3 separate regions of the Homo sapiens genome follow, and all the other regions are linked to region 2. The links come from fine-mapping of genetic effects on plasma protein levels. A gene starts in region 2. Each other region holds a variant in brackets. All regions are shown on one strand. Distances are between the middles of the regions.

Region 1 (2,749 bases), 91 kb before region 2:
GGGAAGCCGTGGGCAAGTTCTGCAGACCCTCCACCACGCATGCTGACCAGGGACTTCTCCCCTTCGGACAGGGTGGCTGGTGGTCCTTTCCGATTCCACAGGGTGGGAAACAGTGCAGGTTCCCAGGGCAAGGGTGGACCCATGGGCAGGTGACTCTGAAGGGCTCTAGCGGGAGTCAGACTCCAGAAGGACTCACAGGTGCAAGGCCAGGAAGACAAGATTCCTTTGCCCCTCAGGCAGGCAGCGTCCCTCTCCAGGTCTCAGTCCACCACCTGCGACGACCACTACGTTCTTTGACAAATGTTTTTCAAAAGTCATAGTTTATGAGTCCAGATGAAGGAAGACCAGTGCTCTGCATGCTGCCTCTGCCCACCGTGTGTCCAGCAAGCACACGGCTCCCCCTGGAGCGAATGCGGGAGGGGGTGTCTGGGGGAAAGGCCAGCCCCTCCCAGGTGCCGTTGCTCAGGTAGACAGTTTTACCCAGGGCGTCTCCAGGTCTCCAGGCAAAACTGCTTCCAGCCAACAGCGTTCCTTTGTCCCCACAGCAACAGGGTCCTGCACTCCTGTTTCCAGGGAAACCCAGCTCTCAGCGTCCCGGTTGCCACAGCAATGCCTACGGGCTCAGCTGGCCATACTGTCTTACCCACAGGGCAAGAGCAACTGGGTGCCCAGGCTCGGGACACAAGACTGCAGAGCCAGGTGCCACACAGGTGTGGGGCCCGTGGACCAAGGAAGACCCTGGCCAGTTGGAGGAGAACTGCCAGGTAGCAAAGCCCAGACTTCTCTGGGGTCCTGCGCTCTGGGCTGCAATGAGCTCTGCCTCCAGTGAGCCTGGCAATGGGGACGCCTCCCAACAGCCCCTACTGGGGCTGGACACCGTGATCCAGGTCAGTGGGGTGGTCACTTCCCTGCACCCTCCTGAGAGCAGGTTGCCAGGACACTTTGGAAGGGACGCGGCAAAGAGAGGGGATGGCCAGGAGGCACCTTCCTGGCTCCCGGGGCACTTTCCACTTGCTCACGTGTTTGCCTTGAGCGTGCAGCCAGTCACGGATGCAAGCAGGCGCGCCTGCATGCACACACAGGCAGCCTTCAGCCAGGAGAGAGAGCCTGGGGAGAGAGGGCCCAGGGCCGCTGCTGGCTATAGACATTCAGGTGGCCGGTGTCCCTTGCAGCCACAGGTTTGCGGGGTGGAGAGAGAGCCCGGGGCCGCTGCTGGCTGTGGATGCTCAGGTGGCCGGCGTCCCTGGCAGCCACAGGTTTGCAGGGTGGAGAGAGAGCCCGGGGCCGCTGCTGGCTGTGGACGTTCAGGTGACTGGCGTCCCTGGCAGCCACGGGTTTGCAGGCTGCGCACTGGGGTGGGGATGGGCAGGCAGCCCTTGGTGCTGACATTCTGGGACCTCGTTCACTGCCCTCCCATGGCCAAGTGTGGGGCCAGCAGGGCCTCTCGGGGG[A/G]CAGTGTTTCCATCGCTGCACATTTGTGGGAGGCTGTGGCTCAGCCCTAGTGTCTATTCTGTGGCTTCCAGATGTTCTGGTTCTGTCTTCGTAGCACCTGGTGTGTGACAACAGTGGCTGGGAATTGTCCCGTGTCCCTCTCCCCTTGCCTCCCTACTTCCCAGAGCCCACCTAGGACCCAGCCTGCGGTCCCACCTCGGATATCCCTCCTCCCTGCACTGCCGTCACCTGCTGCTGACCACCACAGCCAGGCGGCCCCACCTCCAACGGACCCCTCGGGACCCCAGGGAACCCCTGACGAACTGGCTTACTCATGGTTGCTTGTTAACCCAGCTCTTAGCATCTCAAAACTATGCCACGGCAGGCTGACATGGCCCTATCCAAACAATACAGATCACCTGAAAAGAGAAATGGCCACAGCTGGTGCAGGTGACCGAGTGACAGGGTAGATGCAGGGTTTGCTCACACACAGGGCTGCATGAGGACTAAGGGCAGGATATTTGAATCAGGCGATGCAACAAGACAAAGAGGTGCCGTGGGGTGAGCTCTACCTCCTCCACCTGGGGTGAGCTCTACCTCCTCCACCTCGGGTGACCTCTACCTCCTCCACCTGGCGTGAGCTCTACCTCCTCCACCTGGGGTGAGCTCTACCTCCTCCACCTCGGGTGACCTCTACCTCCTCCACCTGGGGTGAGCTCTACCTCCTCCACCTGGGGTGAGCTCTACCTCCTCCACCTGGGGTGAGCTCTACCTCCTCCACCTGGGGTGAGCTCTACCTCCTCCACCTCGGGTGACCTCTACCTCCTCCACCTCGGGTGACCTCTACCTCCTCCACCTGGGGTGAGCTCTACCTCCTCCACCTGGGGTGAGCTCTACCTCCTCCACCTCAGGTGACCTCTACCTCCTCCACCTGGGGTGAGCTCTACCTCCTCCACCTGGCGTGAGCTCTACCTCCTCCACCTGGGGTGAGCTCTACCTCCTCCACCTCGGGTGACCTCTACCTCCTCCACCTGGGGTGAGCTCTACCTCCTCCACCTGGGGTGAGCTCTACCTCCTCCACCTGGGGTGACCTCTACCTCCTCCACCTCGGGTGACCTCTACCTCCTCCACCTGGGGTGAGCTCTACCTCCTCCACCTCGGGTGACCTCTACCTCCTCCACCTGGGGTGAGCTCTACCTCCTCCACCTGGGGTGAGCTCTACCTCCTCCACCTGGGGTGAGCTCTACCTCCTCCACCTGGGGTGAGCTCTACCTCCTCCACCTCGGGTGACCTCTACCTCCTCCACCTCGGGTGACCTC
Region 2 (2,749 bases):
GCCAGAGGTGGGAGCAGCCCTCCCTGACCAGGGAGGCCAGGGCTGGGCTGAGGAAGGGGTTAAAGCATGTTCTTGAGGCCCCACGTATGGGCATATGCTGCCTCCGTGCATGTGAATAAGTATGCATGTGTGCGTGGACGTGTGTGCATGTGCGTGGAGACATGTCTCTCCTTGCCAGGCTCTCACCGAGAGCCGGCCTCAAGTAGGGATTCTACAGTTCCACGCCCTCTCTGGTGCCTCCCTCCAAAGACAGGAGGCCTTGACCTTTCTGGCCCTGGAACCATGGCTGTGCTGCTGTCCTGGAGCTCTGAAAGCTGGGACGGTGACCTAAGGGCTAACTGCGGGACAGAGCCCTTCCCCTCCCAGGCCCAGTTTGCCTCTCTGCAAACAGAATTGCCACCCCATGCAGGGTGGGAGAGGCGCCAGGGGCAAGCTTTCAGGAGGTGCCAGTGCAGGGTCAGCTCCTCCTTAACAATTCTGCACCCGGCCCTGACACCAAGTCTAAAGGGTCATGAACCTCTGAGTGAAAACACCAAGTGCAGGATCTGTGAGAACCGGCAACACCCAGTCACACGCAGAGAACCCTCCGCTGCTTCTTAAAAATAACATTGACTGTGCCTGGCTCTCACTGAAAAACAACACGTGCTCACTTGAGATATTTCAGAAGATACAAACGCAAAGACAAACAAAAAACCACCCAGCACCTCAGTGGTAGATGCAGTTACCATCAGCCCGGCCTTTCCTGCTTGTCTTCGAGGGGTGCACTCTTATCTTTGGGGGCCCCAGTGTGGCACGCAGCCAACACCACCCAACACCAGGATCTAAGAGAAGAGACCACGGTGGGCCGGGTGAGTTCCAGGAATCAGACCCTGCCATGGGCCTGGGGACATAGAGGTGGTCCCGGCTGAGGCCCTGAGGAAGGACAGACAGGCAGCCCAGGCCAGCAGCCCAAGAGACAGGGGGCAGGGCTGGCAGGCCACAGGGTGGGGACCCTGAATTCAAATACTGGGACTCAGAGTCCTGCCCCCACCTGCCAAGGCCGGTGTCATGCACGCACTTGCCCCCAGGGCCTGAGTGGGTCAGTCTTCCCCACGGAGGGTTTGCTTTACCCAGGGGTCGCCCCGAGGTCCCGAGCCTCCCAGGAATTTCTCCTGATGCGGCCACGCAGATGCAAACACTTTGTTCCATGCCTCCTAGTCTCCGGCCCGGGCTCTTCCTCACACAGACCCAGGCAGGGAGTGGGCTCCGGGGTTAGTCTGCCCCTGTGGCTGGAAGCCTGGCGTCCCCATGCTCAGGGCTGGGAAGGGGGCAGCACGGAACGGGTTCATTCAGGCACTGCCTGGCCAGGGTCCCCTCCCGCCCCCCGCGTGATGACACGCCTTCAGGGCGGGCCCAGCGTCTCAGGCCTTAGGGACACAGGTCTGTCCCAGGACGGCACTGAGGGCCCAGGCGCCTCCACCAGGGTAGGGACCCAGGGCGGAGCATGGCCCCACCACAGGGCGCGCGCCCGCAGAGCCCTCACCTTGCCTGTGCCCACGCCAGGGGACTGAGCTCCCCGCGCGCCCGCGCCCTCCCACGGGGCCTGGCGCTTTAAGAGACGCCCGATTTGCATGGCCCCGCCCCCCCGAGTGACCGCCGGGCTGGATATTTAAATCGTGGCCCCAGGGGCGGGGCTGGCCCCGAACGCGGTCCCGCCCGGCGCTTTCCTCTGCGGAGCTGCGGCGAGAGCGCGGCCCGGCCGAACGGGCGCGGGACGCGGAGCCCCCGACGGCGCGGCCAGCGGGCGCGCCCGCGCTCCCCGCACCCCGCCTGGCCCTGCCGGCCACCCCCGCGCGCAGCCTAGTCCCCCAGCGCCCTGCTCCGCCAGCGCCCCGTCCCGCCCGCACACCTCCGCGATGCGGCACGGCGTCGCCTGGGCGCTGCTGGTGGCCGCGGCCCTGGGGCTTGGGGCGCGCGGGGTGCGCGGCGCGGTGGCCCTTGCCGACTTCTACCCGTTCGGCGCCGAGCGCGGCGACGCCGTCACCCCCAAGCAGGACGACGGCGGCTCGGGGCTGCGGCCGCTCTCGGTGCCCTTCCCGTTCTTCGGTGCCGAGCACTCCGGACTCTACGTGAGTAACCCCCGGGCTCGCGGGGCGCCCGGGAGGGGAGGGAGCTGCGCCCCGGCCGCTGCCCGCCGGGCCCGGACTCCCGCCGCCGCCGCCAGCCACTTGGCACCGGGGCGGCCCGAGGTGGAATGAGGACAGCGCTTCCTCCTCGGCGGCCAAGGCCGGACAGCGGCCCGCGGGAGAGGCGCGCGGGCGGGGCGGGGGCGGCAGCCGCCGGGCACCGAGGCGGGGGCGAGTGGAGCGCGGCGCCCCGGCCCCTGCCAGACCTGCCGAGCGCGTCTTCCCGGCGCCTGATTCCCAGGGGAGAGCAGGGGTCCTGGTACTGCCCTGGTTTTCACACATGGCAATGTGGCCGTGGGCACGGGCTTCCCGGGCCTCAGTTTCCCAAGTGGGGCGCCGGGCCTGCGAAGGTTGCAGCCCCTCCTTGGGCCATTTCAGCCCCGCCCCCCGTGGACGCCAGTGCGGCCCAGAGCCAGGAGGCTGGACCCCTTGCCCAGGCGCTCAGGGCAGGGCCTGCTTCTTCGCTGACCCTCCTAGGCGGGCTAGCAACAGGCTTGCCCCTCCCTGCCGTCCTCTCCGCAGTCTGGGGGCTGGCCGCTCAGGCTCAGACTCTCCAAACAGGACTCCCAGTGGGACTCCTGGGG
Region 3 (2,749 bases), 37 kb after region 2:
CCCTGACCTGCCCCGCCCTGCCCCTGCAGTCCCCTTTAACAGCTGCAACAGCAACAGAAATGTCCTCTGCTCCTTGTGCCCTGCAGTCTGGCCTAGCCAGTGACACAAGGGACCACAGCCGGCAGGAAACCCCGGGTGTGGAGGGAATGAAACAGGACAATGGCCACAGGGTCAGTGCTCCCCAGGCCCGAGAGTGCCTTTGGGCTGTGCGCACCCCCACTCACCTCCTGGCCACCTGCTTTCTCTTGGGTTCATACTTGCCCCTGGCCCCAGGGGAGGCCCAAGAGCCCAGAGGTGAGCTGCCGGAGGACTGGGCTGGGGAGCCAGGGCCAGCCCTCTCCTTGGCTCCCAGGAACGGTTGGCTGAGGTCAGGACCTGGCTGGGAGGTTGCCGACCCTGGCAGGAACATGGTGGGGGCAGGGTAACCCCCACCTCTGTAGACCTGGGGAACTGGCCTCCCTCACTCTGCCCCCACCCCACCCCCAGGCTGGCTTCAACGCAGGCGATGGGCAGCGTTACTTCAGTATCCCCGGCTCGCGCACAGCAGACATGGCCGAGGTGGAGACCACCACCAACGTGGGTGTGCCCGGGCGCTGGGCGTTCAGAATCGATGATGCCCAGGTGCGCGTGGGGGGCTGCGGCCATACAAGTAAGAGGACAGAGGAGCAGCTTGGGGTGGGAGCGGGCTGAGGAAGGGGGTTGATGGCAGAGGAGAGGTGGAGACGAAGGGGGCTGGATGCTGACGGGGAGAGCAGGAGCACTTGGGTGTCCAGCCCAGCCCACCTCAGGC[G/A]TGTGAAACTAAGGAAAGCCTGGCTGGTCCTGCAGCCTCAGCTTCCCCTAGAGAAGACCCCACACACACACTGCTCTGGGTTGGAGGGAACCCTCTGGAGACTGTGCCCTAGAGAAGATCCCGCACACACACTGCTGTGGGTTGGAGGGAACCCTCTGGAGACTGCGGGTTTCGGGGGTAAAGAGTTCTGGGTCCTCAGGGGAGGAGGAGCCCAGGGACACCTCTCCCTGGGACCATGTGGTCCCTACTCTCCCCTTATTCCCACCCAGCCTCCTGCCTGGGCTGGGGGAGGAGCAGCATGTGGTCTCTGACCCTCAGGGCCACCCATGAGGCAGGTCCTCTTACCACCCAGGTCCTCATTTTTGCCAGCGGGCTTGCTGCTTGGTGGGATTTGGTGACTGCTTGACAAACCCAAGCATCACGTCTACAGGGGAGTTCCAGGGGTCCTTCCAGCCCACAGTGCACAAACGGACGGGGTGGGTGTCCCTCCCAGGGGTGGGCACGTGGTTTGTGGGAACAGCCAGGGCGGCAGCAGAGCCATAGATGGTAGCCTTAGCCCTGCTGCTGTGCGGCCTTGGGAGCCAAGGAGCCTTCAGAAATCACTGCTTACACTTGGGGCGAGGGCAAGCGACTGATCCGCTCCACTGAGGGCGGCGCATCACAAGCCCTGCCAAGCCTGGGGCCGCAGTGAGGCTCGCACCGGGACCTGCCCCAGACTCGCCTCCCAGCCGCGAGCATCTAGGCTACGAGAGGGGAGAGGGGCCGCATCTCCGCAACACTGAGTCCCCAGAGAACACGACAGGGGTAGCAGATGCGCGCGCACCACTGTCGGGGCGGAGGCGGGGTGCAGGCGCGCCATGGGGTGGGGGATGAGGGGTAGAGAGTGTGGGGGTGGGGGATGGGGTATGCAGGTGCGCCACAGGGTTGGGGATGAGGGGTAGATGGTGTGGGGATGGGGGGTGCAGGCGCGCCACAGGGTTGGGAGTGAGGGGTAGAGGGTGTGGGAGGTGGGGGCGTGCCATGGGGTGGGGGGTGCAGGCGTGCCACGGGGTGGAGGGGTGGGGGGTGCAGGTGTGCCACGGGGTTGGAGGTGGGGCGTAGTAGGGGTGGGGGGCGGAGGCGCGTCACGGGGAGGGGAGTGGGGGGTGGAGGTGCGTCACGGGGTGGGTGGGGGGTGGAGGTGCGTCACAGGGTGGGGGGTGGGGGGTGGAGGCGCATCACGGGGTGGGGGTTGGGGAGTAGAGGCGCGCCACGGGGTGGGGAGAGCACCGCGCGCTCATGGGAAGAGGAAAGATGCAGTCGCAGGGCGGGAAGACCCATCTGAGGGCTGCAGGTGGTGCCGCGACGAAGGAGGCCCGAGGAGCCCGAGCTACCCACACACTGGGGCACGAACAGGCCCCCGCTTGCATCTGAGCTTAGGGAGTCCGGGCTCACGGGGCGGGGAGCCCAGAGCGGCCGCCCAGCATCCGAGGGACACAGCCCTCCTGCAGCCCCCAGCCACACCCCCTGCGTGGCCCGCCTTGTCCCAGAAACGCTGACATGACGGCTGAGTGCCAGCCTCGGGTTTTCCACGCCAGGAACCCTGGAGGGGAGGCGGAGTGTGCCAGTTTTTAGACCTGTCCACGGCAGCGCTGAGAGGGATGGAGGGGACGGGGTGCTGGTGTGAGTCGCTTCAGGGAGTCCGCCCCACACGAAGCCACCTCCCCAGAGGCCACGCCAACAGCACCGCCCCTGCTCCCCTGCTCCCCTGCTCCGACCTAAAGTGAAACCTGAAACCTGGCTGCTTTGCTGCGGTCACCCGGGCACCCAGAGGCCGACCTTTTGGGTCAGGGGAGGGAAGGGAGATGCGGATGGGAGTGGCTCTCCTGCCGAGTCCGGAGGCAGCGGCTGAGGCTCCAGCCCCTCCCTATGTCTGCAGCGTCCGTGTGCCTGGCCCTGCGCCCCTGCCTCAACGGCGGC

Which allele goes with the higher level. Alleles are on the strand shown, and positions count from the first base shown. The strength of an association depends on the size of the effect and on how common the allele is. Not every link is listed here.
For the plasma level of the protein whose gene starts at base 1,676 in region 2, allele A in region 1 goes with a higher level than allele G (moderate association).

What was found. A credible set is the group of variants that fine-mapping cannot tell apart. PIP is the posterior inclusion probability: the model's chance that the variant is causal. Protein levels are from antibody-based Olink assays in UK Biobank. Linkage for the fine-mapping came from a reference panel and not from the study's own genotypes, which makes the PIPs less certain.
Region 1: its variant is the best candidate, but not a certain one, in a credible set for the plasma level of the SNED1 protein (UK Biobank, PIP 0.65).
Region 3: its variant is the best candidate, but not a certain one, in a credible set for the plasma level of the SNED1 protein (UK Biobank, PIP 0.63).

The regions. Positions count from the first base shown.
Region 1 is chr2:240,905,705-240,908,453 of GRCh38, forward strand. It overlaps CROCC2 (ciliary rootlet coiled-coil, rootletin family member 2), which reads left to right and starts at 632. Exons shown (of 32, transcript NM_001351305.2): 1 at 632-887. The coding sequence starts at 810. The variant A/G (reference allele first, on the strand shown) is at 1,452.
Region 2 is chr2:240,996,943-240,999,691 of GRCh38, forward strand. It overlaps SNED1 (sushi, nidogen and EGF like domains 1), which reads left to right and starts at 1,676. Exons shown (of 32, transcript NM_001080437.3): 1 at 1,676-2,108. The coding sequence starts at 1,896. RefSeq lists a silencer at 1,308-1,727.
Region 3 is chr2:241,034,082-241,036,830 of GRCh38, forward strand. It overlaps SNED1 (sushi, nidogen and EGF like domains 1), which reads left to right. Exons shown (of 32, transcript NM_001080437.3): 4 at 487-649; 5 at 2,709-2,749. The region is part of intron 1 of SNED1-AS1 (SNED1 antisense RNA 1); the gene reads right to left. Among named protein-coding and RNA genes, the nearest start is that of SNED1-AS1, 29 kb to the right of the region's middle. RefSeq lists enhancers at 19-962, 963-1,904, 1,905-2,749. The variant G/A (reference allele first, on the strand shown) is at 791.